3 separate regions of the Homo sapiens genome follow, and regions 1 and 3 are each reported to be linked to region 2. Evidence: microRNA targets listed by miRTarBase, many of them from high-throughput screens and not tested one by one. Region 2 holds a microRNA gene; each other region holds the end of a gene's coding sequence.
What was found. Region 2 holds the annotated microRNA hsa-miR-378g (ACUGGGCUUGGAGUCAGAAG, at 4,828-4,847, opposite strand). A microRNA usually pairs through its seed, bases 2 to 8, with sites in the 3' UTR of a target mRNA and lowers its output. Matches are read on the target gene's strand: a 7mer-m8 pairs with bases 2 to 8, a 7mer-A1 pairs with bases 2 to 7 and ends in A, and an 8mer does both.

Region 1: miRTarBase lists ZNF785 as a target of hsa-miR-378g. The part of its 3' UTR that is shown has no 7-base or 8-base seed match.
Region 3: the mRNA of PRKAR2A is a reported target of hsa-miR-378g. Seed matches in the 3' UTR shown: 7mer-m8 at 3,614-3,620, 7mer-m8 at 4,665-4,671 and 7mer-m8 at 6,291-6,297.

What each region holds. Positions count from the first base shown.
Region 1 is chr16:30,574,628-30,585,574 of GRCh38, reverse strand. It overlaps ZNF785 (zinc finger protein 785), which reads left to right. Exons shown (of 3, transcript NM_152458.7): 1 at 1-168; 2 at 325-453; 3 at 2,132-4,919. The coding sequence ends at 3,015. It also overlaps a transcript of ZNF688 not described here. Among named protein-coding and RNA genes, the nearest start is that of ZNF785, 5.6 kb to the left of the region's middle. RefSeq lists a silencer at 1-73 and an enhancer at 80-680.
Region 2 is chr1:94,741,053-94,751,999 of GRCh38, forward strand. It overlaps MIR378G (microRNA 378g), which reads right to left and starts at 4,848; the gene lies at 4,808-4,848. The region is part of intron 1 of SLC44A3-AS1 (SLC44A3 antisense RNA 1); the gene reads right to left.
Region 3 is chr3:48,743,710-48,754,656 of GRCh38, reverse strand. PRKAR2A (protein kinase cAMP-dependent type II regulatory subunit alpha) reads left to right here. Exons shown (of 11, transcript NM_004157.4): 10 at 2,340-2,481; 11 at 2,939-8,071. The coding sequence ends at 3,072. Among named protein-coding and RNA genes, the nearest start is that of IP6K2, 32 kb to the right of the region's middle.

The DNA.
Region 1 (10,947 bases), not on the chromosome of region 2:
CCGGGGAGGCCGGGCCCCGGAGGACGAGGGAAAGCAGGCCGGGCGCCGTGAGCTTCGCGGACGTGGCCGTGTACTTCTCTCCCGAGGAGTGGGAATGCCTGCGGCCAGCGCAGAGGGCCCTGTACCGGGACGTGATGCGGGAGACCTTCGGCCACCTGGGCGCGCTGGGTGAGGCCGGGCCCTCCGGCCGGGACCCCCAGTCCGTCGGTGGGAAGCGGTGATCGGTGTCCCCAGAGGCTAGTGGGCTGGAAGCGGGGCGCCGAGGGAGCAGTCTCATTCTCCCCTCCCGTGCGCTCAGCCGAGCCCATTGTTTCTCCTTCGCAGGATTTTCAGTTCCCAAACCCGCTTTTATCTCGTGGGTGGAAGGAGAAGTGGAGGCGTGGAGCCCGGAGGCCCAGGATCCCGACGGTGAGAGCTCTGCAGCTTTCAGCAGGGGCCAAGGACAGGAAGCAGGTACTTCATTTGGATAAGTAGCCGTGGAGAAGCCCCAACCCCCGCCCCCAACTCACTCACATCCTCAGCGCAGGCTGCCCCCTCCAAAGTCCCATCCTGTCTCCCTGCACCCTACCCCAGAAACGTCCTCATCTCACTGCAAAATGGCCCGATGGAACAGCGAAATTGGGATCTATGGAACCGATTAACCATACTGGAAAACCTCAGTTTAATGCAAAATAGAGCTTGAGCTTCCTAGGAGGTCAAGGGAAAGGGGAAACCTGTAATTTGATTTTTGTTGTGGGATAAAATGAAGACAGATGTTCCTCTTGGATATTAATGATGTGAACCACGTGTAGTAAATAACACCATTAATTAGATTTTTAAATGAAGAGAAATGTTTTTCCTGCAGCCCTGATACCAGAATAAATGCTTGTTCCCAGAAGGTCTTCCCGTGGAACCTAGTGAGGCAGTCCAAGTGTAGACTTATTTTTTGAGACAGTCTCGCTCTGTTGCCCAGGCTGGAGTACAGTGGCATGGTCTAGGCTCACTGCAACCTCCGCCTCCCAGGCTCAAGCAATTCTCCTGCCTCAGCCTCCTGAGTAGCTGGGATTACAGGTACCCGCCATCATGCCCAGCTAATTTTTGTATTTTTAGTAGAGACGGGCTTTCACCATCTTGGCCAGGCTGGTCTTGAACTCCTGATCTCGTGATCCACCTGCCTCTGCCTCCCAAAGTGCTGGGATTACAGGCGTAAGTCACTGTGCCCCACCAGCAAGTGTAGACTTTTTGGTGATGGTAAGAGCAGAGAGGAAAGGTGCCAAAAGAATTTGAGCTGGTACCAAAGAAGGTCATTGAATGGCTGTTTTGTAAAGGGATCATAAACAGGTTCAGGATGGTAAGTGCCATGAGGACTGGGACCATCACTGTGTCCTCAAAGCCTGACACAGAGTTAAGCGTTCAATATTGTTCACTCCTTTTTCTTTTTTTATTTTTTTGAGACTGAGTCTTGCTGTGTCGCCCATGCTGGAGTGCAGTGGCACGAGGTTGGCTCACTGCAACCTCCACCTCCCCAGTTCCAGGGATTCTCCTGCCTCAGCCTCCCAAGTAGCTGGGATTACAGGCGCCCACCACCTCGCCTGGCTAATTTTTGTAATTTAGTACAGACAAGGTTTCCCCATGTTGGCCAGGCAGGTCTCGAACTCCTGACCTCAGGTGATCTGCCCACCCCAGCCTCCCAGAGTGGTGCTGGGATTACAGGCATGGGCCACCACGCCCAGCATTTTTTTTTTTTTTTATTAGAGAGTTGCCCAGGCTGGAGTGCAGTGGCCCGATCACAGCTCACTGTCCCTTGAATTTCTGGCCTCAAGCGATCCTCCCACCTCAGCCTCCTGAAGTGCTTGGATAACAGGTGTGAGCCATGGCACCCGGCCCGACTCCTCTTTCATTATCTCCAGTGCTCAGGGCCTTCTTGTGTTAACCTGCAGACCATGGCATTTGCTTTTACTCCAGGCTGGCTTTCAGGGCTTCATGAGGCCCCTATCATTAAGCCGTGCTCCCTGGGCGCCATATTCTGAACCATTCCTGCTGCCTTCCAAGGCAGGACATGGTCCCGGAATATGCTGGTTTTGACTTTATCATCTTTCCTGTCTCAGGATCCAGGGATGAGTTTCTGATTTTATCATCTTCCCTGTTTCAGGATCCAGGGATGGGAATGAGGAGAAGGAAAGGCTGAAGAAGTGTCCAAAACAAAAAGAGGTGGCGCATGAAGTGGCTGTCAAGGAGTGGTGGCCCAGCGTCGCCTGCCCAGAGTTCTGCAACCCTAGGCAGAGCCCCATGAATCCCTGGCTCAAGGACACTCTGACCCGAAGACTGCCCCACTCTTGCCCAGACTGTGGCCGCAACTTCAGCTACCCTTCCCTCCTGGCCAGCCACCAGCGGGTCCACTCCGGGGAGCGGCCCTTCTCCTGCGGCCAGTGTCAGGCGCGTTTCTCCCAGCGCAGGTACCTGCTCCAGCATCAGTTCATCCACACCGGCGAGAAGCCCTACCCCTGCCCCGACTGCGGGCGCCGCTTCCGCCAGAGGGGTTCCCTGGCTATCCACAGGCGGGCTCACACCGGGGAGAAGCCTTACGCGTGCTCAGACTGCAAGAGTCGCTTCACTTACCCCTACCTGCTGGCCATCCACCAGCGCAAGCACACGGGCGAGAAGCCCTACAGCTGCCCCGATTGCAGCCTCCGTTTCGCCTACACCTCCCTGCTGGCCATCCACAGGCGCATACACACCGGCGAGAAGCCCTACCCCTGTCCTGACTGCGGCCGCCGCTTCACCTATTCTTCCCTCCTCCTCAGTCACCGGCGCATTCACTCCGACAGCCGGCCCTTCCCCTGCGTGGAGTGTGGGAAAGGCTTCAAGCGCAAGACCGCCCTGGAAGCCCATCGGTGGATCCACCGCTCCTGCAGCGAGAGGCGCGCGTGGCAGCAGGCCGTGGTGGGGCGTTCAGAGCCCATCCCTGTTTTGGGAGGCAAGGATCCCCCAGTTCACTTCCGGCACTTTCCAGATATATTTCAAGAGTGTGGGTGATGGCGTTCACACAAACTGGTCAGCGTTTCCCTGGAGAGGAAGAGGCAAGGTTTGTGTATTTGGGGGATAAGGAAAGGAAGTGGGCGTTTGAGGAAAACAAAGTTCTGCCTTAGGTAAAAAGCAGAGGTAGGGGCACAGAGGGCTGTGGGGAGGAGGCAGGAATCTGAAAAGGTGCCTGGGGGTTGACCCCATTTTCTGAAGCTCCAGCACACAGGGCCCCGTGTTCACGTCCCATCCTTCACTGAAAACCATTCACCTAACTGGCTTTTCCTTCATGATTGTTCTCTCCCTTGTAGCTCTCTGCTTTTTGGCCTGTATCTCTCCTACTCCTCTGAGATGGGGTCCCCTACATTCCAGTGCCTATTAAAGGAGCCTGCACCCACTCTGGACCCCCCAGAATAGAGGGGATACCTCAGGCCTGTCCCTCGGCTGGTGGGGGGGGCGGAGCTCATCCCAGGATTCTTTTCTTTTTTTTGAGATGGAGTCATGCTCTGTCGCCCAGGCTGGAGTGCAGTGGCGTGATCTCGGCTCACTGCAACCTCTGCCTCCTGGGTTCAAGCCATTCTCTGCCTCAGCCTTCCCATTAGCTGGGATTACAGGCATGCGCCACCAGGCCCAGCTAATTTTTGTGCTGTTAGTAGAGACGGGGTTCCACCATCTTGGCCAGGCTGGTCTTGAATTCCTGACCTCGTGATCCACCCGCCTCGGCGTCTCAAAGTGCTGGGATTACAAGCGTGAGCCACCGACCCCTGCCGAGGATTCTGCCTTTTACCAATGCAGGTGAAACATCTGGCAAGGAGACACCTGGAGTGTAGGTGTTCCTTGGTCTTGAAGACCTAGAGGTGGCCATAGAGAGGACAGTGGCCTCAGGTGGGGAACTCCCCCCCCACTCTCATTCTGCAAGTGCACAAACTATCAAACATAGCGGACTCTGGAACTGGGCCAACTCTTCACTGTATGCATTAGTGATTGCAGTGTTTTTTTCTTCTTCAGATATTTGCATGTTCCCTGGATTTTGTATTTTTTGATAAAGATATATTCTTGGGCCACAGTAGCTGGAGATATAATGCCGGAGGATTCTTTTTTTTTTTTTTTTTTTTGAGACAGAGTCTGTCTCTATTGCCTGGGCTGGAGTGCAGTGGCCCAAGCTACGCTCACTGCAAGCTCCACCTCCTGGGTTCACACCATTCTCCTGCTTCAGTCTCCCGAGTAGCTGGAATTACAAGCACCCGCCACCACGCCCAACTAATATTTTGTATTTTTAGTAGAGACGGGGGTTTCACCGTGTTAGCCAGGATGGTCTCGATCTCCTGACTTCGTGATCCTCCCGCCTCGGCCTCCCAAAGTGCTGGGATTACAGGCGTGAGCCACTGCACCCAGCCTCTTTTTTTTTTTGAGATGGAGTTTCGCTCTTGTTGCCCAGGCTAGAGTGCAATGGCATGATCTTGGCTCACTGCAACCTCCGCCTCCTAGGTTCAAGCGATTCTCCTGCCCCAGCCTCTTGAGTAGCTGGGATTACAGGCACCCACGACCATGCCTGGCTAATTGCATTTTTACTAGAGACAGGTTTCACCATGTTGGCCAGGCTGGTCTCCAATTCCTGACCTCAGGTGATCCACCCGACTTGGCCTCCCAAAGTTCTGGGATTACATTTTTTTTTTAAAGAAAGAATAAATTAATTGTGATTAAAGTTGAAATCAAGGCATAGTCTTTCCAGTCTAATTTTTACTGTAATGCTTGTATGTCAACAGTTATGAAGGCCAGGCGCGGTGGCTCACGCCTGTAATCCTAGCAGTTTGGGAGGCTGAGGAGGGTGGATCACTTAAGGTCAAGAGTTCAAGACCAGCCTGGCCAATATGGTGAAACCCCATCTCTACTAAAAATACCAAAAAAAAAAAAAAAAACGGCCAGGCACGTTGGCTCACACCTGTAATCCCAGCACTTTGGGAAGCCGAGGCGGGCAGATCACGAGGTCAGAAGATCGAGACCATCCTGGCTAACATGGTGAAACCCCGTCTGTACTAAAAATACAAAAAAATTAGCCAGGAGTGGTGGCAGGTGCCTGTAGTCCCAGCTACTTGGGAGGCTGAGGCAGGAGAATGGCGTGAACCCGGGAGGCGGAGCTTGCAGTGAGCCGAGACTGCGCCACTGCACTCCAGCCTGGGTGACAGAGCGAGACTCCGTCTCAAAAAAAAAAAAAAAAAATTAGCCAGGCCTGGTGGCGTGCACCTGTAATCCCAGCTTCTTGGGAGGCTGAGGCAGAAGAATGGCTTGAACCCAGGAGGTGGAGGTTGCAGTGAGCCAACATAGCGCCACTGCACTCCAGCCTGGGCAACAGAGCAAGACTCTATCTCAAAAAAAAAAAAAAAAAAAGGCCTGGTGTGGTGGCTCACGCCTGTAATCCCAGCACTTTGGGAGGCTGAGGTGGGTGGATCACGAGGTCAGGAGATCAAGACCATCCTGGCTCACACAGTGAAACCCCATCTCTACTAAAAATACAAAAAATTATCCGGGCATGGTGGCGGGCGTCTGTAGTCCCAGCTACTGGGGAGGCTGAGGCAGGAGAATGGCATGAACCCGGGAGGCGGAGCTTGCAGTGAGCTGAGATCGCGCCACTGCACTCCAGCCTGGGCGACAAAGTGAGACTCCAGTCTCAAAAAACAAAACAAAACAAAAAACAACAGTTAAGAGAGTTCTTTCTGGCCCATTTAGATCTGCTAGCCCTACTTTTGAAGAGGAAACTTTTGAAGGAATGAACAAAAGAGGTAGGTGGGACTAAGCATTTCTGCATTCCAGGACTGGTGGTCAGTGACTCAAATATCTCTTTGAAAAGACTGCTTCTTTGAATCCTTGGGTTCCAAGATAATTAATGGGAACTGGTGCCGGGCACGGTGGCTCACACCTGTGATCCCAGCACTGTGGGAGGCTGAGGCTGGTTAATCACTTGAGGTCAGGAGTTTGAGACCAGCTGGGCAATATAGTGAAACCCCATCTCTACCAAAAAATTAGCCAGGCGTGGTGGCACATGCCTGTAGTCCCAGCTACTCAGGAGGCTAAGGCAAGAGGATCACTTGAGCCTGGGAGACAGAGGTTGCAGTAAGCTGAGATGGCTCCATTGCACTCCAGCCTGGGCTACAAAGCAGGACTCTGTCTCAAAACAAAAACAGATACAAAAACTGGGAACGGGGTGTTATCTTTACTTCACCACATAGCCTCTCCTGAATTGGTGGACCTGGATTCCTAGCTTGGCTCAGTCCCCACTGGCTGTGTGGCCTTTAGCATCACCTAGATTCTACAAATAACATTTTTCTCTATTTGTTTTACACATGTCAATCTGCCTATCCATCCCTCTATCCATTCATTTATCCATTTTATTAATGTATTTCAAAGTAAGTTGCAGACATCATTACATTTCACTTCTAAACACTTCAGCATACAGCTGAGTTTTATGCAAGAAACTTAAGCTCTCAGCTGGGTACAGTGGCTCACACCTGTAATCCCAGCACTTTGGGAGGCTGAGGCAGGAGGATTGCATGAGATTGGGAGTTTGAGACGAGCCTGGAAAACAGCAAGACCTCATTTCTACTAAAAATTTTAAAAATTAGCCGAGCATGGTGGGGGAGGGTGAAGAAGGAGGATAGCTTGAGCCCAGGAGTTTGAGGCTATAGTGAGCTATGATGGCGCCACTTCAGTCTGAGTAACAGCAAGACACTATTAAAAAAAAAAAAGAGCCAGGCGCAGTGGCTCACACCTGTAATCCCAGCACTTTGGTAGGCCAAGGTGGGCAGATCACCTGAGGTCAGGAGTTTGAGACCAGCCTGACGAACATGGAGAAACCCTGTCTCTACTAAAAAAAAAGAAATACAAAATTAGCCAGGCATGGTGGCACATGCCTGTAATCACAGCTACTCGGGAGGCTGAGGCAGGAGAATCGTTTGACCCCAGGAGGCGGAGGTTGCAGTGAGCCAAGATCGTGCCATTGCACTCCAGCCTGGGCAACAAGAGTGGAACTCTGTTTCAAAAAAGAAAGAAAGAAATTCAGCTCCCACTTAAAGTTCAGTTGTACTCTGTTATTGACAAGTAAAGTCGATTGAAGCCCAGTCATCTCCTGTATGTTGTGTGACTTCTCATAATTATCTGATCAAGAGTCTTGAAGAAACATTTACAATTTGATGGGCAATAAAATAATTTGAAAGCAAGAGCATTTTGTTGTTCTTGTTATTTCTTGAGACAGGGTCTCACTATAGCCTAGGCTGGAATGCAGTGGCACAGTCACGGCTCACTGCAGCCTCGACCTCCTGGGCTCAGGTGTTTCTCGTTCTCATCTCAGCCTCTTGAGTAACTGGGACTACAGGCATATGCCACTATGCCCAGCTAATTTTTGTATTTTTTGTACAGATGGGGTTTTGCCCAGGCTGGTCTTGAACTCATGGGCTCAAGTGATCTGTCTATCTGAGCCTCCCAAAGTGGTAGGATTACAGGTGTTAGCCACTGTGCCCGGCCAATTTTTGTATTTTTATAATGAGTGGCAGGAAAAACAACTCATCAGCTACACGGAACAGTTTTAGTCTTACTTGAAAGTTTGTTTCAGGCCTGGCGCTATGGCTCATACCTGTAATCCCAGCACTTTGGGAGGCCGAGGACGGTGGATCACTTGAAGCCAGGAGTTTGAGACCAGCCTGGCCAACATGGCAAAACCCCATCTCTACTAAAAATACAAAAATTAGCAGGTTGTGCTGTTTTCAGCTACTTGGGAGGCTGAGGCACGAGAATTGCTTGAACTCGGGAGGCAGAGGTTGCAGTGAGCCGAGATTGTACCACTGCACTCCAGCCTTGGCCACAGAGTGAGACTCTGTCTTAAAAAAAAAAAAAAACCACAGGCCGGGTACAGTGTGCAGTGGCTCATGTCTGTAATTCCAGCACTTTGGGAGGCCAAGGCAGGCGGATCACGAGGTCAGGAGATCAAGAGCATCCTGGCCAACATGGTGAAACCCTGTCTCTGCTAAAAATACAAAAACTGGGTGTGGTGATGCGTGCCTGTAATCCCAGCTACTCAGGAGGCTGAGGCAAGAGAATCGCTTGAACCAGGGAGTTGGAGGTTGCAGTGAGCCAAGATCCCACTACTGCACTCCAGCCTGGCGACAGAGCGAGACTCCATCTAAAAAAAAAAAAAAAAAAGTTTCTTTCAATCTGTTTAGTTAATATTTTTATTGTTCAGCTTCATCTTCTTAAGTCTTCTGCATACTTAGTTCAAAGAGAAGTGATTTACAACATAGGATCTGAAGAAACAAAAGTATTTTTGGTTCAAGTTGCTACTCTGTTTAAAAGGAGAATCCAAATAGCCACTCACCTGTAGTCTTAGCTACTCAGGAGGTGGAAGTGGGAGCATAGATCACTTGAGCCCAAGAGTTCCAGGCTGCAGTGAGCTTTGATCTTGCCACTGCACCCCAACCTGGGTGACAGAGTGAGACTCTGTTTCAAAATGACAATAATAGGCTGGGCATGGTGGTCCACACCTGTAATCCTAGCACTTTGGGAGGCTGAGGTGGGAGGATCACTTGAGCCCAGGAGTTCCAGACCAGCCTGGGTATCATGGAGAGACCCCATCTCTACAAAAACGAAAATTAGCCAGGCATGGTGTTGCACACTTCTAGTTCCAACGACTTGAAGGCTGAGGTGGGAGGATCACCTGAACCCAGGGAGGTTGAGGCTGCAGTGAGCTGTGATCATACCACTGCACTCCAGCCTGTGTGACAGAGTGAGAACCTGTCTCAATAATAATGATAATTAATAATAATAATCATAATAGAAGGAGAATCAAAATAAAACATGCAGATGGTCAACAGGTACATGAAAAAATGCTCAACACCACTAATCATCAGGGAAATGCAAATCAGAACTACAATGAAGCCGGCCTGGTGGCTCACGCCTATAATCCCAGCAGCTTAGGAGGCCGAGGTGGGCGGATCACCTGAGGTCAGGAGTTTGAGATCAGCCTTCCCAACATGGTGAAACTCCATCTCTACTAAAAATACAAAAATTAGCTGGGTGGCTGGGCGCGGTGGCTCACGCCTGTAATCCCAGCACTTTGGGAGGCCGAGGTGGGTGGATCATGAGGTCAGGAGATCGAGATCATCCTGGCTAACACAATGAAACCCCATCTCTTCTAAAAATACAAAAAATTAGCCGGCGTGGTGGCGGGCACCTGTAGTGCCAGCTACTCCAGAGGCTGAGGCGGGAGAATGGCGTTAGCCCGGGAAGCGGAGCTTGCAGTGAGCCAAGATCGCGCCACTGCACTCCAGCCTGGGCAACAGAGCGAGACTCCATCTCAAACAAACAAAAAAATTAGCTGGGCATGGTGGTGCACGTATGTAATCCCAGCTACTCAGGAGGCTGAGGCAGGAGAATCGGTTGAACCCAGGAGGGGGAGGTTGCAGTGAGCTGAGGTTGCGCCACTGCACTCCAGCCTAGGCTGCAGAGCGAGACTGACTCAAAAACAAAAAAGCACACAATGAGATATTATCGTACCTTAGTTAGAATGGCTGTTATTAAGAAGACAAAACATGACAGGTATTGGCAAGGATGCTAAGAGAAGGCAACTCTTGACTGGGCGCAGTGGCTCACGCCTGTAATCCCAGCATTTTGGGAGGCTGAGGTGGGTGGATCACCTGAGGTCGGGAGTTCAAGATCAGCCTGACCAACATGGAGAAACCTCATCTCTACTAAAAATGCAAAATTAGTCAGGAGTGGTGGCACGCGCCTGTAATCCCAGCTACTTGGGAGGCTGAGGCAGGAGAATCGCTTGAACCCTGGTGGCAGAAGTTGTGGTGAGCCAAGATTGTGCCATTGCACTCCAGCCTGGGCAACAAGAGTGAAACTCCTTCTCCAAAAAAAAAAAGAAAAAAAAAGAGAAGGGAACTCCTACACACTGTTGGTGGGAACGTAAGTTAGTACAGCCACTACTGAAAACAATATGGAGATGTCTGAAAAAAACAAAAACAGAACTACCATGTGGGCTGGGCATGGTGACTCACACCTGTAATCCCAGCACTTTGGGAGGCCAAGGCTGGTCGATCACCAGAGGTCAGAAGTTCACAATAGCCTAGCCAACATGGCAAAACCCCTTCTCTACTAAAAATACAAAATTTAGCTGGGTGTGATGGAGGGTGCCTGTAATCCCAGCTACTTGTGAGGCTGAGGCAGGAAAATCACTTGAACCTGGGAGGCAGAGGCTGCAATGAGCCGAGACCAGGGCATTGCACTCCAACCTAGACAACAAAAGCAAAACTCCGTCTCAAAAAAAAAAAAAAAGAACTACCATGTGATCCAGCAATCCCACTACCTGGAATTTATCCAAAGGAAAAGAAATCAGTATATAAAAAAGATAACCTGCATCTCCGTGTTTACTGTAGAGCCGTGTTTACAATAGCAAAGATATGGAATCAACCTAAGTGTTGATCAGGGGACAAATGAATAAAGAAAATATGATATATATACACAGTGGACTTAAGCCATAAAAAATGAAATCATGTTTACAGCATGGATGGAACTGGAGGTCATTATGTTAAGTGAATAAGCCAGACACAGAAAGGCAAATATCACATGTCCTCACTTACATGTGGGAGCTAGAAAAGTTGATCTCATGGAGGTAGAGAGTAGAATGATACCAGAGATTGGAAGGGTGTACGTGGGTGGGAGAGGTGGATGAAGAGAAGTTGGGTAATGGGTACAAACATACACTTAGGAAGAAGGGATAACTTGTAATGTTCAATAGCAGAGTAGGGTGACTGTAGTTAACAAAGTACTGTAAATTTCCATAGCTAGAAGAGAGGACTTGAAATTTTCCCAACACATAGAAATGTTAAATACTCAAAGTGATTGATACCTTAAATATCCTGACTTGATTATTGTACATTCTATGTATGAAGAAAA
Region 2 (10,947 bases):
CATTAGAAATAATTTAAGGATGTAATTAAAATTTTAGAAAAATACGATGGTAACTGTGGTACATACCTAGAAGATGATGAGACAAAATTAGGTCATTCAAAATGGTATGCTTAAGAATCTGGATGATCTTCATGATATGGTAAAGAGGATGTATGTGTCTATTGTCAATTACTTTAAAAACGAAAAGCAAATAGGAGCCCCAGAATAAAACAAAAATCAGAATTAGAAGCAACCTAAATTAGGACATAGTTTGGAAAAACTGATTAGGGTAGGAAAAGAGAATTCATTTTCTTTTGCATTGCCTAGGATTATTTATTTCTTACTTCATTCTTCAGTAAATAATTTTTATATATTCACAGGATTGACATTGGGGAAGAAACTGTATATTGGTTTTCAATATTTAGAATCAAATTTTAAACAAAGCAGGGAAGACTTAACTATGGTTTCAGAGTAGAATATAATTATTACAAACCCAGTAAATACAAAAGAGAATCCAGGAAAGGCAGAAGTTAGAAGGTGAAGGAAGTAGGAAGGGTGGAGGGGAAAATGGGGTAATGAGTTCCTCATTTTTCTTGTAAGGAATCAAGTGGAATACAGTCTAAAATTATGAAGATGGAAAGACACAGAGGCAGTGGAGGATAACACACACCCTCATGTGGCAGGAGTCAATAAATACTGTTGAAAGTTGATAAATCAAAAAAGAGAGGTATAAGCATATTACTCAGTATTTTGTGGCAACCACCTAACGAACTGAAACCAGAACTGGTTAAAGTGGATTGCCGTTGGGAGTGGGAGGGAGTGAGGACAAGGAGAAGGAGACTTTGCATAGTGTTTTGTCCTATTTGAGTGTAACTTCCATCACATGTGGGCATTACTTTTAAAATAAAACTGGGAAGAAGAATAAGATTACCAAGCGTTGACATTGGGGAAGAAACAGAAGCTTTTATACCCTGTTTGCAAGAGTGAAAACTGAATTGGTCCAAGCTTTTTTTAAAAAAAGTCATGAAATGCTGAGAAAACTTGAAGTTATGTGTGTGCCTTTAGGAGTTCTATTTTAAGTAAGACATGGAAGTTTTAATACACTTATGCTGCAAACTGGGAAGTGCTAGGGAACCCACATCCTCCCCATCAGCCTGGCTGGAGCCATCTGGGACAAGCATCTATTTGTTACAGAAATTTTATACAGCAGGAGCTTGAGAGTGACTCTGTCACTTACCTCATGAATGCACAAACTCCTGAGAAGAGGAGCCGGAGGGAACGGCAGTGGCCTTTCCTGAAGAAATGAGGGATGCTTTTCTCTCACAACTTCATGGCAGGCCACAATTTTGTCTTACACCATATTGTCACAGGAAGAAATGCTGCCTGCGGAGACTCAAGAACAGGACACAGACCAAACAGGAAAATCCCAATGAGACCATGGATCCCTGGAGGGGATCCTCTTTTGCAACCCTCAAAGGCAAAGCACTTTGCAGGCAGTAGGCATTTATATTAGTGTGCTAGGGCTGCCATAACAGAATAGCATACACTGGGGGTGCTTACACAACAAATATTTATTTTCGTACAGTCCTGGAGGCTCAAGTTTGAGATTAAGGTGCACCAGGATTGGTTTCTGGTAAGGCCTCTCTTCCTGGCTTGCAGACAGCCACCTTCTTGGTGTGTCATCACATGACTTTTTCTCTGTGTATACAAAGAGAGAGAGAGATCTCTAGTGTCTCTTTTTATAAGGACACCAGTCCTATCAGCTTAGGATCCAATCCTTATGACCTCATTTAACCTTGATTACCTTCTTGAAGGTGTTATCTCCAAATACAGTCATATTGGTAGTTAGGGCTTCAACATATGAATTTGGAGGTGACACGATTCAGTCCATAACAGTATGGAATAAGCACCTATGGTTATTGAATAATGAATGCTCTGACTGCTTTCCTGGATACATGGGGGCCCTAATTTTTATGCTACATAATGGATGCTGTAAGGAGAAAGAAACTATCCTTCTTGTTCACACCCATCTTTTCCCTCCTCAAGGTGGATGTCATTGCTAATATGATTGCACTGCTAAGGTCATCAAGAGGGCAGTTTTTACAGTGTCCCTATGAGATGGCAGGGACTTGCTCACCCATCACTCAGCAAACATCCACATGTCCATGACCAGCTACTGCCCCCCTCACACCTGGCCCCACATTGGGACCTGGCTCATTCTATCTTCATCACTACCAGCTATGGTCTGAATTTTTGTGTCCCCTTCCTCCACAGATTAATATGTTGAATCCTAATTACCAACTCGATAGTATTAGGAGATGGGACCTTTGAGAAGTGATTAGGTTATAAGGATGGAGCCCTCATGGACCGGATTAATGGAAAGAGAAGAAAAGAAAAGAAAAAAGAAAAGAAAAGAAAAGGAAAGAAAGGGGTCCAGAGAGCTGCCTTGCCCTTCTACTATGTGAGGACACAGCAAGAAGGCATCATCTATGATCCAGGAAGTGGGCCCTCACCAGACACCAAATCTGCTGGTGCTTTGATCTTGAACTTACCAGTCTTCAGAACTGTGAGCAACAAATTTCTGTTGTTTAAAAGCCACCCAGTTTAAGGTATGTTTGTTATAGTCGCCCAAACAGACCAAAATGCTCTCTCTTTCTAACCAAGGGGTAATGAGAGGCTGAGATCTGTATTCATTTTTAGGGGTAAATAATGGGGGCTCCACTTCAGTTTATAGCCTTAATTGTATGCTCTCTGGAGGAGGAGAAAATGGGGATGGGCAGAGATGTAGAATAGATATTGTACACACCCCACAAAAAAATAGCAGCCTTTGTTTTCCATTTGCTGTCTTCTCTCTGTCCTACCATCTGTCCTCAGAGAGAAGAGGCCTCACAGGCAAGAAGAACACGAGAACACAGATGCTCCCAGGGTCCCTGGAAAAATGCCATCAAAATCTAGTGTACATCTGTAACAAAGACAGTTTATTGTTCCAAGAGGCTGCATGTTTCACCTAATAAAGAGTCATATAAACATAAGGAAGCTCTGGCCTCAAGCTACAAATGCATTTGCTCACTGAGTGCCTGACTGGAGGACAGACTGTGCTTCCTGAACAAACCAGAACCATATAAAAACAATCCTCCCTGAGTACACAGGACCCAAAGTGATTTCTCAGGATGCTCATTTCCTTTCACAAGTAGTCCCAGGTAGTATGTCATGTCCAGAGCAGTCCTGGTACTCTCCTAGAACACCACAGCTCAACATCCTTTCGGTTCACTGTCCAGAGGCCTAGCATGCTCATTTCCTCTCTAAACCCCTTGACTCTCAGAAATGTCCCTAACACATTTACAGTTTACAAAGTATTTTCACATGTCATTTAATTCTTGCAAGTACTCTGTGAGATGACAGAGACTCAATCATTCATTTATTCAGCAAGCACTAATCAAGGGCTAGGTACCATGCCAGACCCTGGGGAGACAGAACAAGCTAAGATGTGCTGCCCACACTTGAGGAGCTCACAGAACACCAAGGGAAACAGGCAATGCCCCGGCCTAGCTGCCATGGCAGGAGGGCACCACAACTTAAGAGAGCACAGAGGGAGTCCATTCTGGCTCAGGAGAACCAGGGAGGTTTCCTGAGGAATATGGTCTCATTCCTGATGGGAGTCAGAGCTGAGCAGGCAAAGAAGGGGACCAAAGGAATGCCAGGCAAGCAGGAGGGCATTCAAGTTATAAAAGAGAAAGCGTGGCCCAAGTGTGGTGCTTTGAGCAGCTGAGTATGGCTTGAAGTAGAGTGTGAAGTGTGGGAGGGGAGGTGGACAGGAGATAAATCCAGAGAGGAACTCGGGGCCAGATCACAGGTGAGTATATTTCAGGACATGGTAAGGAAATTTGGATTTTTACCCTAGGGAAATAAATAGGTAATTGCTAAGGGTTTTAAGTAAGGCAGGTACATGAATGAGCTGTGCAGTTTAGAAAGAGTAATCAGAATGGGTAGGTGCAGTGGCTCACACCTGTAATCCCAGGACTTTGGGAGGCCAAGGCGGGCTGATCACTTGAGTTCAGGAGTTCAAGACCAGCCTGGCCAATATGGTGAAATCTCGTCTCTACTAGAAATACAAAAATTAGCCAGGCGTGGTAGCACACACCTGTAATCCCAGCTACTCAGGAGGCTGAGGCAGGATAATCACTTGAACCTGGAAGGAGGAGGTTGCAGTGAGCCAAGATTACATCACTGCACTCCAGCCTGGGGGATAGAGCGAGACTCCATCTCAAAAAAAAAAAAAAAGAGTAATCAGCCAGTGCAGATGCTGGACTGAGGGAATAAGCCAGGAAGATCCTGAGTGGTCCAGGAGAGAGAAGAGATTTTCATTCAGAGCAGTGGGAATGGGGATGGGGAGTAGGGATGGTTCAGGATATATTTAAGAGGACATACAGGACTTGTGACTGGATGACTGTGAATGGTGTAGGGGAAGCTGGGGCAAACATCCAGATTTCTGTTTGGGCCCATGAGTAGATGATGGTGCCATTCACCTAAGTAGGATGAGGAAGAGGAACAGGTTTGGGAAGAAAGTGAACGATTGATTGGGCATGCTGAGTTCTAGGGACATATAAATCCCAAACAGAGATGTTTGGGGAAGTTTGGGTTCAGGGCTCGGCAACTCAAGGGAGAGGTCTGGCTTGGTGATATGGATTTAGGGGACTCTGGCATAGTAGCTGTAGATGGTGTCACAGAAGTATGTGAGGTCTCCCAAAGGGAGGATGCAGAAGCCTGATGTCATTAGACAGATGAAGGGACTGAGGCTGCCTGAAGATCTCATAGCTGGTCCATGGCAGAGCTGGGCTGGAGCCAGGTCTTCTGACTCCAAGCCCAGTGCCCTATCTGCCACACAAAAGTCTAGCCAAGGACTCCTGGATATGAGCCTGGGCTGTACCTGGAAGCCAGCAGGTTTTACCTCTGTTGTTTCCTTGTTTTATCTAATAGGAAGTAGCCCTTGAGCAGTGGCCAAGAAGCCCTTCATCATGTTGCTCTTGGTAGGCTACAAGGGTGAGTGGAGGAATAGTCTAAATACCTACTGGGGAGATACCCTTGGGTGAGACAAGGCAGAAAATGCTCACACTTGCCACCATGTTCACCCTGTCATTCAATCCTTACATCTGCTCTTCCTGGGTCACTCACCTTCCTGCTTACTTCCCTAGACTCTGCTCACATCAGGTTCTTTGCTTCACCTCCCCTCTCCATCAAAATCTTCTTGTTTTAGTCCCATCCCACCTCCACTCTATAGTTCTCTGCTAGACTATGAGATAAAGCAAGTCCTGCTAAGATGGGTACTAATCAGTTAATGAGAAATCCATCCCATGGTACCCACTCCTTTTAACCAGAATTCTTGGAGACATGTAAGTAGCATTGCTAAAGGCAATAATTTGAAGCAATTTGGCCAATTATTGAGGAAAGGATAGGCATATAGGCAGGAGAGGAAGTAAGAGAGAAAGTTGGGGCCCGATCACCATCGGTATGTTTCATATTACATTAACATGTTTGGAGTTGAGTTCATTCAACATGGTGATGCAGTGGCCTGCTGGTTAAGGCCCTCCTTGTCATGACAGTTGACATTCTATTTCAACACCTGTAAACAATAGGTGTGCCCTTCTGTACACACACACCGTAAGCATCTCTTGTCTCCTCATCTGCAATACAACAGAACAGAGACAGGGTGATTTTTCAAATCAAGGCCACAGGTCCCAAATGTTTTTCTCAAATTCTGTTAGTGATCTCATTGGTAGAACCAGTGCCAGGCCGGGCTAGAAATCCAATCAGAAACAATGTTTACTAAGGGCTGAATTAAGAAGGAATCTCTTGGGTGAGGGAGGGTTTTTCTCCCTTGGCAAAATATGATTTGCTGTTTTCAAGTTAATGAAAAGAAGGGGGAAAACAAAAAATAACAACTGAAAGATCTTTTAAAGGAAGTACAAACTTGGACAGACCAAGGAACACTTATGAAACAGCCTGCCCTGCTGTCTGGTTCCAGCCTTGCAAGACTTAAGCCACAGTGACCCCAGGGTCACGGAAAGAAGCAGCCCGCTGGGGTTAGGGTTTGAGGAGGAGGAATGCTGTCCAGCACATGTGGGGCAGGGCGGCAGGTTTATCTCAAGGGCTCAAGATTCTACAGTAAGCCCCAGGGTATGTTGACTGCCTGTCTGGGTAGACATCGGGCCACCCAGTCCTCTAATGTGACTCTGGATGATGGGTTGGCCGCAGATGGTGAGGCGAGCCCAGCTGGCCTTACAGCTACAGACAGGAAATGCCAGAGCCCTGGGGATTGGGCATCATGGAGTTCATTAAATCACATGCCTTCCAGCTGTAAGGTTGTCCAGTCTCACTCCCATCAGTTGATGTCTGAATTCCCTCAGCAACATTCTTACCAAGTGGTCATTAAGCCAGTACTTGAATAGCCCCCATGACAGAAACTTTTATCCTTCAAGAAAGTCAGTTTTGTCTTTGGATAGTTCTGGCTGGAGGGGTAGGAGTTACTAAATCCCTCCATTACTTCAACTGCCTGGTGGGGGATGGTTCTCTGCACTCACACAGAAGACATTTCTGCCCATCCCAAGTGGCAGGAGTTGGTCTGAACACCTGGGTCTGCCAGAAGGCACATCATTCTAGTCACCCTACATCTCCAAGCATAGGTGACAGGGGCATTTTGAACTGCATGTCACAGGAAGAGGTCTGCTTTGTTTACCTCTGAATCTTCAGCAGCTGCCCCATGATTGACACTAGAAAAACTAGATAAATATTTCCAAAAAATGAATTTATGAACAAGCCTAAGGCTTTGCCATTTATCTCATCAAGAAAGAGAATTTGGATTTACAAAAGTCAAATGTGATTTTAAAGGGCATTCAACACTCAACAAAGTCATTCTAACCACTCCTCCCTTAACCCAGTGCACGCCACCTAGGGTAAGTACCAAATTTTGTGCTGTGCTTTTGCAATGGGTCTCTACTTGAAGAGATATACTATTTCCTTTATCATATTGTAAATTCCTCCAGGAAGTTTCACCAGAAAGTTATTCTGACTTATTGTATAACTTCCAAAGTTATACAGTGCAGGGCAGACATTGAATAGTAAAAATGTTCCACACTTGGTCTATACTAGGTACCCACAAATATTTATTGAATGAATGAGTGAATGAATGGCAGAGGGAAAGGCTTTGTTGTTGTTTTGTAAAAGTAGAGAAGTCAGATTATCCAAACTTTACTTCTTACAAACATAAACATGCATATATGCACACACACATTCCTTTCCTTCTCTTAACTTTGAATAATTCTTGGAGTGTTTTGACTATTCCCAAACTTATTTTTCAAAAATAAATATTTCCACCGTTTCCCTTAAATTAACCTACTGTATTTTTGGCCATTAATCATAAACCCTGGGTTTTATTTGTAGATAATAGTAAAAATTAATAATTAAGAATGTACATACTATAAACTGTAAAATAAGAACTAAAGTGACACAGTAAAGAATTATGGATAATAAATATTATTATCCATAAATATTATCCATAATTCTTTATTGTGTTACTTTAGTCCTTATTTTACATTTTATAGTATAAATAGTAGAGGAGATAAATAGAATACTTTTTAAAAATACTGAATTAGTCCAAAAGAAGGTAGAAAAAGAAGAAAAATAGAACAAAAAACAGATGAGACATAGAAAACAAATACCAAGATGCTATATTTAAACTGAAGCATCTCAATAATCATATCAAATGTAAATGGTCTAAACATCCCAATTAAAAGAAAGAGATGTCCAGATTTGATTAAAAATAAGCGAAAAGCAAGACCCAAATAAATACTACCAATAAGAAACCCACTTTAAGTAAAAAGATACAAATAAGTGAAAAGCAAAAGGATATAAACGGTAATCTTAAGAAAGCTGTAGTGGCTATATTAATATCAGAAAAAGCAGATTTCAGAGCAAAAAGTATTTAGCCAGGGATAAAGCTGTTTCCCATTTAGTAAAAATAAAGGTGCTAAATTATCAAGAGGACATAGGATAGGAATCATAAATGCTTATATTTGTAACAACTAACCTTCAAAATACATGAAACAAAATATGGAAAAATTGCAAGGATAAATTAACAGATACATGATTATAATAAAATATTTTAACACTTCCCTCTCAGTAGTTAATAGACACAGAAAGAAAATCAGTACAAATAACAACTCGAATAACACTATCAACCAACTTGATCTAATTGACATTCAGAGAACATTCCACCAAAAAACAAACAAACAAAAAGGTCAACATAATACAAATTCTTTTCAAGTGCATATAGAACATTTTCAAAGACAGACCATATTCTGGGCTATTAAGCAAGTCTGAATACATTTAAAAGGATTTGGGTCATACAAAGTATATTCTCTGACCAAAAATGGAATTAAAATAGAAATCAGTAACAGAAATATATCTGGAAAAAACTGCAAATATTTGGAAACTAAATTTCACACTTATAATCTCTAGGTCAAAAAAGAAATCTCAAGGGAAAATACAGTATATTTTAGAATACATAAAAATGAAAATACAACATATCCAAATTTGTGGGATGCAGACCAAGCAGTACATAGAGGTAAATTTATAGCACTAAATGCTCATATTAGAAAAGAACAGTCAGGCATGATGGCTCATGCCTATAACCCCAGCACTTCGGGAGGCTGAGGAGGCAGGATAACTTAAGGCCAGGAGTTTGAGCCTAGCCTGATCAACATAGCAAGACCCTCTCTCTATAAAAACTGCAAAACAAACAAAAAAACAAACAAAATTAGTCAGGTACAGTGGCATGCACCTATAGTCCCAGCTACTTGAGAGGTGAAGCAGGAGGGCCCAGGAGTTCAAGACTGCAGTGAGCTATGATCATGCCACTGCACTTCAGCCTGGGTAGCACAGTGAGACCCTGTCTCAAAAAAAAAAAAGAAAAGAAAGAAAGAAAGAAGGAAGGGAAGGGAAGGAAAGGAAAAGAAAAGAAAAAGAAAAAGAAAGAAAGAAAGAAAGAAAGAAAGAAAGAAAGAAAGAAAGAAAGAAAGAAAGAAAGAGAAAGAAAGAAAGAGAAAGGAAGGAAGGAAGGAAGAAAGAAAGAAAGAGAAAGAAAGAAAGGAAAAGAAAGAAAGAAGGAAAGGAAAAGAAAAGAAAGAAAAAAAGAAAGAAAGAAGGAAGGAAAGGAAAAGAAAAAAAAAAGAAAGAAAGAAGGAAGGAAAGGAAAAGAAAAGAAGGCCCGGGCATGGTGGCTCACACCTGTAATCCCAGCACTTTGGGAGGCCCAGGTGAGCAGATCACCTGAAATCAGGAGCATGATTCAGGAGCATAATTCAGGAGCATAAATCAGGAGCATAATTCCAAATGCTGAAATGCCAAAAAATCAAAATCCTGAAAATGTAATTCTGGAAAAAATAATTTTTAAAAATTCTTTAATAATATTTATGTTTTAAAAGGGTCTTTGTTTGAGAAATATACCAGAACACTTCATAGGCCACTTTACAAAATGAAATAGGCAATAATAACTATATGTTTTTCAAGCATAAACACTAGATATACTAACAACAGTTGCACAGATATAACAGTTATAAGCAGATGAACTGTATTCACAAAGAAATAGGTCAAAAGCAAAATGTATAAATGTAGATCACTATGGTTGGTAATTGTGTGCACCCATGTTTATAATTTCAGTTATCTGAAATACTGTGACAGATGACCTATGTCGTTTGATAAGATGAATCAAAAACTGCAATGGGTCACCACTGCATATGCAGTCGTGCAAAGAGCCTAGATCTCAAAAAATTTTACCTTTCACAAATGCAGTTGTATGAAGAGGAAATATCTTCACTTATTGAGAAAGCTTTGGTGTTTTTACATACAAGCACAATGGTTACACACAATCAGTGTTGTGATAATGCACTTTTGGGAAGTCAAATTTGCAAAAAAAATGCATAAAACAAATCAAAACTCTCCAAAAGTCTTTACATGGTTTATACCTCTAGTATTAGAAATGATGCAAAGAGAAATACTTAGCATAGCAAATTGTAAAAAATAATGCTGATACTTTAAAATAGTGGGGGAAAAGTAAGAAAAAAACTAAAAAACTAAAAAGAAAATTCAGCATATTAAAAATATATTACAAGGGTAGATTGTGGGCAATTGCACACACGTAGTCCATAAGAACAGGCCAACTTTCATGATCATTAACTATTTTCTGAAGTCTTGCATTGTGATGAATAGCTGCTTTTCATCTTTTAGGGCATGGCTCTCCTCAAAGAATAAGTTCACATTCATTTTCTTTTTTTTTATTATTATACTTTTAAGTTCTAGGGCACATGTGCACAACGTGCAGGTTTGTTACATAGGTATACATGTGCCATGTTGGTTTGCTGCACCCATTAACTCGTCATTTACATTAGGTATATCTCCTAATGCTATCCTTCCCCCCTCTCCCCACCCCATGACAGGCTCCCATGTGTGATGTTCCCCGCCCTCTGTCCAAGTGTTCTCATTGTTCAATTCCCATCTATGAGTGAGAACATGCAGTATTTGGTTTTCTGTCCTCGCGATAGTTTGCTCAGAATGATGGTTTCCAGCTTAATCCATGTCTCTACAGAGGACATGAACTCATCCTTTTTTATGGCTGCATAATATTCCATGGTGTATATGTGCCACATTTTCTTAATCCAGTCTATCATTGATTGACATTTGGGTTGGTTCCAAGTCTTTGCTATTGAGAATAGTGCCGCAATAAACATACATGTGCATGTGTCTTTACGGCAGCATGATTTAAAATTCTCTGGGTATATACCCAGTAATGGGATGGCTGGGGTCAAATGGTATTTCTAGTTCTAGATCCTTGAGGAATCGCCACACTGTCTTCCACAATGGTTGAACTAGTTTACAGTCCCACCAACGGTGTAAAAGTGTTCCTATTTCTCTACA
Region 3 (10,947 bases), not on the chromosome of region 2:
GACTATAGGCTCCCACCACCAAGCCCAGCTAATTTTTTGTACTTTTAGTAGGGACAGGGTTTCCCCATGTTGGCCAGGCTGGTCTGGAACTCCTGACCTCAGGTGATCCTCCTGCCTCTGCCTCCCAAAGTGCTGGGATTACAGGCATGAGCCACCGGCGCCCATGTGATAGCTTGATTCTTAATTAAAAGTAGATCTTTGAGACCAGCCTGACCAACATGGAGAAACCTCATCTCTACTAAAAATACAAAATTAGCCGGGCGTGGTGGCACATAGCTGTAGTCACAGCTACTCAGGAGGCTGAGGCAGGAGAATCGCTTGAACCCGGGAGGCGGAGGTTGCAGTGAGCTGAGATCGCACCATTGCACTCCAGCCTGGGCAACAAGAGCCAAACTCTGTCTCAAAAAAAAAAAAAGAAAAAAGTAGATCTGTTGTTTCAACTGAAAACAATAGTTTTGGCCTGGCATGGTGGCTCACGCTTGTAATTCCAGCACTTTGGGAGGCCGAGGCAGGCGGATCACGAGGTCAGGAGATCGAGACCATCCTGGCTAACATGGTTAAACCCCGTCTCTACTAAAAAACACAAAAAATATTAGCCAGGTGTGGTTGCGGGCACCTGTAGTCCCAGCTACTCAGGAGGCTGAGGCAGGAGAATGGCATGAGCCCAGGAGGCAGAGCTTGCAGTGAGCTGAGATCACACCACTGCACTCCAGCCTGGGCAACAGAGTGAGACTCTGCTCAAAAAAAAAAAAAAAAGAAAACAATAGTTTGAAATGTCTGTGTCATTTTACTTACAGTTTTTGGACTAGTGATGTTTGTAGATTTCTCAGATATTCATTGACACCTGCTATGATCACAGCATAGTGTTAGGTGCATAAGATCAGCAGCAGCATGGCACTGGGATATTGGGGATGGGTGGTTTGTCAGAAGTTCAGAGTCCTGGCTTTTCCCCAGATTTACTGAATCAGAATGTGCATTGCGAGAAAACCTGCGTAATACGGGAGCTGGTGTGTATGTGACAGTGTGATAAGTCCCTTCTGTTTTAGAGAAGGGACTAAGTGGGCACGAATATGGCTGCAACTCCAGAGAATACTACTGAAATTGGAAAGGGAAAGTTGGCTCAGATGAAACAGACCAACTTCAGAGCAACAGGGCAGAAGTGTAGAAGGAAGAAGGGTCAAACCGTGTAAGCTAGTGTAGCAGTTTTGTTTCTTTTAAAAATTAACCAAAAAGGAAATTATCTTTCTGCCTACAACATAAAGTGGTTCTTAGAGATTGAGACTAATTCTTACTAATAAATTCTAAACAATTATTTACTTAAATTATCACTTTGGTTAGCAGTTGGATTTGTTAAAAAAAAAAACCTCTAGATATTAATATAATGTAGTATATTATCTTAAATTTAGTTACTTAACTCTTATTTTAAAAAATGGGAGGGGGGAGTGCCTATAATCCCAGCACTTTGAGAGGCCGAGGCGGGCAGATTATGAGGTCAGCAGATGGAGACTATACTGGCGAACATGGTGAAACCCTGTCTCTGCTAAAAATACAAAAAAATTAGCCAGGCGTGGTGGCGGGCGCCTGTGGTCCCAGCTACTTGGGAGGTTGAGGCAGGAGAATGGCATGAACCTGGGAGGCAGAGCTTGAAGTGAGCGGATATTGCGCCACTGCACTCCAGCCTGGGCGACAGAGCGAGACTCCATCTCAAAAAAAAAAAAAAAAAAAAAAAAAAAAAAAAAAGGAGGAGGGAACCACTAACTTAAGGTACAAATAGTACTTAAAAAGAAATTTGTTGGCCAGGAGCAGTGAATCACTCCTGTAATCCGAGCACTTTGGGAGGCCAAGATGGGAGGATTGCTTGAGGCCAACAGTTGAAGGCTGCATGAGCTGTGATCATTCCTCTGAACTCCAGCCTTGGTGACAGAGTGAGACCCTGTCTCTTAAAAAAAAATGTGGGGGGCATGGGGGATTTTGTCACTGTAAAATGTTGTTCAAGGCGCAGTCTCAAATCAGAGAAATAGCCCAAGTTTGTGGCTCATTACCTAAGAGAAGCATTGTCCTTATTTAGACAAGATTGGGCATGTTCAGAATGGTATGGCTGTAGATTACCTTGAAAATGTTAGGACTCCGAGCTCTAGGTAAAAAGCAGACTTTTCTGATCAAACCAGACCACTGAGATTAGTCCATGGAGTTTACATGGTACAGTTAGTGAATTTTCTGCAAAGTGAATTCCTCAGTAATTGTGTAGAGTATGCTGAGAACAGTGTATGTGTGTGCAACTGGACATGCCCAGCTGTGATCCTGGAGTCAGCCTAGGTCATGTTCTTTGCCTGCTGTAGACTAAATCAAACAAGGATGGTGGGAACCAGGAGGTCGAGATTGCCCGCTGCCATAAGGGGCAGTACTTTGGAGAGCTTGCCCTGGTCACCAACAAACCCAGAGCTGCCTCAGCTTATGCAGTTGGAGATGTCAAATGCTTAGGTAAGAAAAGTTCTTTATGCATTAATATTCTTTTTCTAACATGTAATATTTTTTTCCCATCAGCAAGCCTTGACATATTCTGCCATCTTTTACTGCTGTCTAGGCCTAGGCAGTTTATGTGACCAACCAGAGATGGATGAATGGATGCTTTCAGCAAACATTTCTGAGTACTGATGACAGCCTGTGAGCAAGACAGGCATGCAGGTTCTTTAGCCGTATGAAAAGAACTGATGTCCAGGGCTGTGGGAGAATGGGGAGAACAGGAGCTGCTGGACTCTGTAAAGTCTCTAACCTGGATGACAGTCTTCTGAATTCATATAGAAACATCCCTTTTTGCAAGTGGCTGGTGTCCCAAGGCGTAATCTCATACAACATGAATGGGTATGTTTAGGAAAAGGTTTGCATGAGGGAAATGGCTTGAATTCATTCTCTCCCTCACCTCTTTTTAACAATGCAGTTATGGATGTACAAGCATTCGAGAGGCTTCTGGGGCCCTGCATGGACATCATGAAGAGGAACATCTCACACTATGAGGAACAGCTGGTGAAGATGTTTGGCTCCAGCGTGGATCTGGGCAACCTCGGGCAGTAGGTGTGCCACACCCCAGAGCCTTCTTAGTGTGACACCAAAACCTTCTGGTCAGCCACAGAACACATACAGAAAACAGACATGACAGAACTGTTCCTGCCGTTGCCGCCACTGCTGCCATTGCTGTGGTTATGGGCATTTAGAAAACTTGAAAGTCAGCACTAAAGGATGGGCAGAGGTTCAACCCACACCTCCACTTTGCTTCTGAAGGCCCATTCATTAGACCACTTGTAAAGATTACTCCAACCCAGTTTTTATATCTTTGGTTCAAAACGGCATGTCTCTCCAACAATTTAAGTGCCTGATACAAAGTCCAAAGTATAAACATGCTCCTTTCCTCTCTTGCTGCTACTCTTGCTTTTGGAAGTTACCACAGGGTCTGCAGAAACCTGTTGTATAACTGTAGACACTCTCTAATGGTTCTCAAAGGAGGAAATGTAGCCTTCAGTCTCCTCATTTGTCCTTTGAGGAAGTCCACATTTGTTCACAGTTGCAGCCTTTGGTTTTACAGTGGGAAATGGTGGTGGATGATATGGACATATGTAGCCCAGTGGCATTGTACTTTCTGCTGACAGCTGCACACATTACAGCTGTCTCCAAACCCACAGTGATGCTTAGGGAAAGACCCTGCTCAGGACCCAGCAGGTCAGCACCCCAGAGCAGACTGATAGGTCCGTGGGACCCATGTTAGAGCAGAAAATTTGGGCTCAGCACATTTTACTGTTAGTAGAGAGCCAGGAAACGTTTTCTGGGTTGGGGATTTTGTGGGATTTTTTAATTTTTTTAGTAGGTTTTGTTTAACCTCTGTGCAGTTTGTATGAATGAATTGCTATACATTTATAAGGAGCCAGGGTCTGGAGGGTTGCTATCACTTTGTCCAGCCCAAATACCTTCCTGGGCAACTCCTACCATTTGTTTGCAGTTGCCTCTACTAGCTGATGGCAGTATGCTGGAAAGAGGTTGTACTATAAAGAGAGTTCTTTCCTTCTACTCCAGAGTTGTTGTGTAGCTTTGCCATTGAACCGATCAATTTTTAAACTCTTTAAAGAAGCAGCAGCTATTTTTTTGAAATTAAAGAAAATTCTCAGGCCAGGCTCAATGGCTCATGCCTATAATTGTAGTGCTTTGGGAGGCTGAGCTGGGAGGATCGCTTAAGACCAGCCTAGGCAACAGAGTGAGATCCTGTCTCTACAAAAACAAAAATTTTTTTTTTGTTTTCTTTTTGAGACGGAGTTTCGCTCTTGTTGCCCAGGCTGGAGTGCAATGGTGCGGTCTTGGCTCACCGCAACCTCCGCCTCCCAGATTAAAGTGATTCTCCTGCCTCAACCTCCTGAGTAGCTGGGATTACAGGCATGCGCCACCATGCCGGGCGAATTTTGTATTTTTAATAGAGACAGGGTTTCTCTGTGTTGGTCAGGCTGGTCTCAAACTCCCAACCTCAGGTGATCCGCCCACCTCAGCCTCTCAGAGTGCTGGGATTACAGATGTGAGCCACTGCACCTGGCAAAAAAAAAATTTTTTTTTAATTTGTCAGGTGTGGTGATGCATGCATGTAGTCCCAAATACTTAGGAGGCTGAGGTGGAAGGATCACTTGAGCCCAGGAGGTCAAGGCAACAGTGAGCTGTGATCATGCCACTGCACTCCAGTCTGGGTGACACAGTGAGACCCTGTCTCTTAAAAAAAAAAAAAGAAAGAAAAAAAATTATTCTTTAGGTAATTTCACTTGGACATATTCATGTATATGGAGTTTGTCAGCTGACTCAGGCATTTACCCTAAAGATCAAATCTGTTTTCAAAAATTGGCATTGGCCAGGCACGGTGACCCACACCTGTAATCCCAGCACTTTGGGAGGCCGAGGCGGGCGGATCACGAGGTCAGGGGTTCAAGACCAGCCTGGCCAACATAGTGAAACCCCGTCTCTACTAAAAATACAAAAAATTAGCTGGGCATGGTGGTGGGCGCCTGTAATCCCAGCTACTTGAGAGGCTCAGGCAGGAGAATCGCTTGAACCTGGGAGTGGAGGTTGCAGTGAGCCGAGATTGCACCATTGTATTCCACCCCGGGTGACAGTGCAAGACTCCATCTCAAAAAAAAAAAAAAAATTTGGCATCATTTACAATTTCATAGAATTACTGTGAAGGCCTTTCTAGTTGAGATGTTGGGGTATTTGGGATTCTAATTGTTAACCCCAGAAGAAGGTAATTTAGCTTGTATTTATTTAAAACCCATTTAGCCTTTTACTTATATCTGGTAGAATTCCAGTGATCATCCTAATAAGGTATATTTCAGAATAATTTTTTTTTCCTTCAGAATAACTTAGAATCAGATGCTATAAGGGCTCCTAGGAGCAGTGTGAAATTTCCGTAAAGATAAATTTGAATGTTGTAACCAAGTTTATATTAAACCAAGAGGCCATTTCCAATATGATTTTTTGTTTCTTTTTAACTTGTTAAGTCCCTAAGAGATTACATGCTAGGGCTTGAGTCATTTCTATTGTAGATAATGATGGCCCACACAGTCACCTTCAACTATCCACATAAGCTAGGCTTTCCGCTTTTGCCACGGACAGTGTGACCAAGATATTTCCAGAGTAAATAACCCACCACAACCTTGGTAATTCCTCTTTTCTTCTTAAGCTCCAGGAAGCGAAAGCAGAAGGACTCTTTTCAGACTGCCCTCTGTAGCCTACATTGCAGCTTTCCAAAACAGGCAGCTAGCACTGGGAAAGCCCATGTGGTGACCCCATATTTTTCTGAGGTTCTTCTTTTCCATGGTGTTACTTTATTATCAGAAAGTAAATTCAGAAAACAGGTCTTGCCCTTAGCAGACAAGAACCACACCAGTTTCTTGTAAAGGTAACGGATACATTGGGATTCAGGAGTGACACAGAGGTCCAGCCCCAGAACTTGTAAGGATTTTGTTTGAACACTGAGCAGATGCCTCCTCCCTGCCACCCATCACACTAGTTAGGGCTGGCCATGAATTCTATGCCAGAGTCACTCCTGCAGTCTGCTAGGGATGGGCCTTCTTATCCCACTCTCGCACACATCCCAGTCTAGTCTTTGCCTTCACAGAGTCCTCCTTGACACCCCTGACTTAATGATAGTTGCTGTTTTGGAGTAGAATTGATCAGGTTTAAGTCATCCTGCTCAGGTTGGGCATAGTGGCTCATGCCTGTAATCTCAGCACTTTGGGAAGCCAAAGTGGGAGGATTGCTTGAGCCCAGGAGTTCCAAACCATCCTGGGCAACAGAGGGAGACCCTGTCTCTACCAAGAAAAAAAAAAAAAAAAAAAGTTAAAAAAACAATTAGCTGGACCTGGTGGTGCACACTCAGTAGGCTGAGGTGAAAGGATTCCTTTAACCTGGGAGACTGAAGCTGCAGTGAGCCATGATCGTGCCACTGCACTCCAGTCTGGGGGACAAAGTGGGACCCTATCTCAAAAAAAAAAAAAAAAAGTCATCCTCCTCCAACTACTGATTGACATATGGATCATCAGTTCAGACCCTCACTGCATACAGGATCCCTAGAGGGTTCTATTTAATAGCTTGAGGAAGGGAGACTTTAAAAGGACGTGTGTGAGTGAAATAGGATATAGCCATTACCACGGTGCCAGGACCTGACAGCGTTCCAATTCTTTTTGCAGCATGGGGAATCAAAGGTGGCATGCCAAGTTCAACTCAGGGCTGAGGTATCCACATTGTCCACATCAGGCAAGCCCTGCACTGACGGTTGAGCCTCATGGAGAGGAGCATGTGTTGGAAAGAGATCCCTTTGTTAACTGTTTTGTGGTGTTCTCTTCAATGAATTAGAGCTCATGCCCCTTTTCTGGCTTTGCTGTTGATTTTGGATGGTAGAGAATATTCCTGAGAGCCTTCCTTTTGGCCCCCAGCTTATGCCACCCACTCTCTTCTCTTGGTTGAATTCTCTGAAGGAAAGGTTCATGTGCTATTGTCCTGTTAGTCAATAGTCTTCATATATAATTGTGTTACATATATTGCTGTAGACTCTCAGAAATCAGGGTAGAGCTTTTCCTTTGAGCAGTTTAATGAGTGAATTCAGCAGCAAAGTCGCAAGAAATGGTTCTCCAGCCAGGAGAGGTTATGTTTATCCTCTGATTGCCCGTTTTCTCTGCACACAGTGATATCGTATTCAGTGAGAGGTGCTGTTGGCACCCAGCAGCACCCTGGGCACACAGCATTTCATGTCATGTCACAGTGTACAAGCTACCCTCTAATTCAGAAAGAAGAGCATTTTGCACAGAGAAAAATAAAAAGATCCATGAATGTCATCTTTTATCTTTTATTTTCAGTTGGCTGATGTTGGAATTTTTGTTCTTGTCATGAACTTGTAAACCAATCTTGCCAAGATACAAGTTGTTTTGGTTTTTCACTACAATGACCTCTTGTTCCTCCTGTCTTGACTGCTGACGTTCCTCAATGATTCTATTGTCTATTTTATGGGAAGCAGCCTTCCCATAGGTTTCCTTTTACACACTGCAGGGCTATCTTTATACTTTAAAAAAAAAAAAAAAAAAAAAAAAAAGGACAAGAACTGTCACTAACCTCATGGAGGGGTTTGCGTAAAACCATTTAGCCCACCTTGAGCAAAGGGTAGATTCCGTGTTGTTTTTTTAAGCTCACTGTAATAAAATAAATCTAATTCAGCATTATTGTGCTACCTCAAAGGTAAAAAATGTTTTAAGGTCTTCTTTTGGTCCTGAGTTCTATATACAGTGTTTGAAATGTCCTTCATTTGGAATTATTTTTTAAATTCTTGGAGTGAATTTTATTTTAATCTGTTTTAATCTTGTATTTTAATCTCAGAAGAATAAGTGATTGAAACGTGATCAATTCTTGCTCTGTGGTGTTAAACATATAATGAACAGTCATTAAGAATTAAGTCACTGTTTGCCATAAACAAGGTTGATGTTCTTTTTGTTGTTGTTAAGGAAACCCTAGGGCTCGGCTTTACTCTTGATTAATAAAGGCTGACAAATCATGTCTGACTTTCTGGTGCAGTCTTATGTTACGTGTTTGCCATTTTGCTTCAGGGCTCCAGGCCGTCATAGCACTCCTTTGGCAGATTCATTCTTCTGGTAGATCTGGGATTAGGGTATGAGCCCTTGAAAATTAGGGACCCCTTGTACTAGTCAGGGTTCTCCAGAGAAGCAGTCAGTAGGGTGTGTGTGTATGTGTATAAAGATTCTTTTTTTTTTTTTTTTTTTTTTTTTAGTGACAGGATCTCACTATGTTGTCCAGGCTGGTTTCAAACTCCTAGGCTCAAGCAGTCTTCCTGCCTCAGCTTCCAGCTTCCCAAAGTGCTGGAATTATAGGTGTGAGCCACTGCACCCAGCCTAAAGATTTATTATAAGGAATTGGCTCACACAGTTATGGAGGTGGGCAAGTCCCAAGATCTGCAGGGTGAATTGGCTAGCTGTAGACCCAGGAGAGCCAATGGTTTAGTTCCAGTTCAAATGTGAAGGCCTGAGATTCAGAAGAGCCAATGTTGTTGTTCTTGTCCAAAAGCCAGCAGGCTCAAGACCCAGGAAGAACCAGTGTTTCAGTTAGCGTCCAAAAGCAGGAAAAAAGACAACATCCCAGTTCAAAGGTGGGCATTCTGTCTTACTTGGGGAAGAGTTGGCCTTTTTGTTCTATTCACGCCTTCGACTGATTGGATGAGGCCCACACACATTAGGGAAGGTCATCTACTTTACTTCTATACCAAATTAAATGTTAATCTTATCCAGGCTGGGCACGATGACTCAGACCTGTAATCCCAGCACTTTGGGAGGTGGAGGTGGGCGGATCACCTGAGGTCAGGAGTTTGAGACCAGCCTGGCCAACATGGTGAAACCCAGTCTCTACTAAAAACACAAATATTAGCCAGGTATGGTGGCACATTCCTATAATCCCAGCCATTTGGAAGGCTGAGGTAGGAGAGTCACTTGAACCCAGGAGGTGGAGGTTGCAGTGAGCCGAGATTGCATCATTCCACTCACTCCAGCATGGGCGACAAGAGTGAAACTCAGTCTCAAAAAAAAAAAAAAAAAAAAAAAACCTTATCCAAAAACACCCTCACAGAAACATCTGGAATAATGTTGGATCAAATATCTGGGCACACTGTGGCCCAGTCAAGTTAACACATAAAATTAGCAATCACAACATGGTATTTGAATGGTTGTGGATGATGTGCAAGGGTATCCTGTATATCCCTTGCCAGGAAGACAAACTCACCAATGAAACCCAGCAGAGCTGGGTATGGTGGCTCACACCTGTAATCCAGGTGCTTTGGGAGGCTAAGGCAGGAGGATCATTGAAGTTTGAAACCAGCCTGGGCAACATAGTAAGACCCTGTCTCTACAAAAAATAAAAAATAGCCTGGCACGGTGTCTGAAAAAAAAAAAAAAAAAGGCTGGGTGCGGTTGCTCATGCCTATAATCCCAGGACTTTGGGAGGCTGAGGCAGGTGGATCATTTGAGGTCAGGAGTTTAAAACCAGCCTGGCCAACATGGTGAAACCCCGTCTCTACTAAAAATACAAATATTATCCAGGTGTGGTGGCGGGTGCCTGTAATCCCAACTACTCAGGAGGCTGAGGCAGGAGAATTGCTTGAACCCAGGAGGTAGAGGTTGCAGTGAACCAAGATTGCGCCACTGCACTCCAGCCTGGGCAACAGAGTGAGACTCCGTTTAAAAAAAAAAGTAGAAAACATCTGTCACTCAATATTATTTACATAATTTCCTTCTCTGTGACATGGCTATAACCAGAACTAGCAAGGATGCTGTGACAGCCCACTGTACCTACAATTTCTTTTCAGGTGACCAAAGGAAGCGCCTTGTTGCAGTTTGATCTTGCCCACATTTGGACAGAGACACCTGCCTGTACCAAAGGGCCAACTGTGGGAGCATATGAAATCTAGGACCCAAGCAACTGGTAGATGGAAATCTTGGGACTCACTAGGGCCCAATAAACTGGTAGCTGAACCCTCTAAAAACCAAAGTGTCTTTGTTTGAAAGCTTTAAAAATTAAATGTCAGCCAGGCATGGTGGCTCACTCCTGTAATCTCAGCCCTTTGGGAGGCTGAAGTGGGAGGATCGCTTGAGCCCAGGAGTTTAAGACCAGCCTGGGCAACATAGTGAAACCGCATCTCTCGCTCTTTTTTTTTTTTAAAGACAGAGTCTTGCTCTGTCGCCCAGGCTGGAGTGCAGTGACGTGATCTTGGCTCATTGCAAGCTCCACCTCCTGGGTTCATGCTATTCTCCTTGCCTCAGCCTCCCGAGTAGCCAGGACTACAGGCGCCCACCACCATGCCCGGCTAATTTTTTTTTTTTTTCAGTAGAGACAGGGTTTCACCGTGTTAGCCAGGATGGTCTCGATCATGAAACCGCATCTCTAAAAAATTTTTTTTAATTAAAAAAAAATTGTGGCTGGGCACAGTGGCTCACGCCTATAATCCCAGCTCTTAGGGAGGCAGAGGCAGGAGGATAGCTCGAGCCCAGGAGTCCGAGACCTGCCTGGGCAACGTAACGAGACCCCATTCTCCACCAAAAGGAAAAAACAAAATTGTGGTTTTGTTTTCGTGGTAGTACTGCTATGACATAAGACATTCCAGGACAATGTCAAGATCATATCATCCGTAGTCTCAGCCTTGAAGAGGGAACATTACATGAGGACTATGTTAGTGTGTCCTAACAGGAAGCTAGAAATTTGTCCCATCAAAGTTACCTGAATATATTACCTGAGTATATAGTGATAGGGAATCACTTAATTTTATAACAACAATTAAAACAGTATTAAAAAGTGGGAGGAAATTGGGGTCACTTAACAAAGCATCATATTAAGTATAAATTTTGCTTCCTTTACCCATTCTCTCTA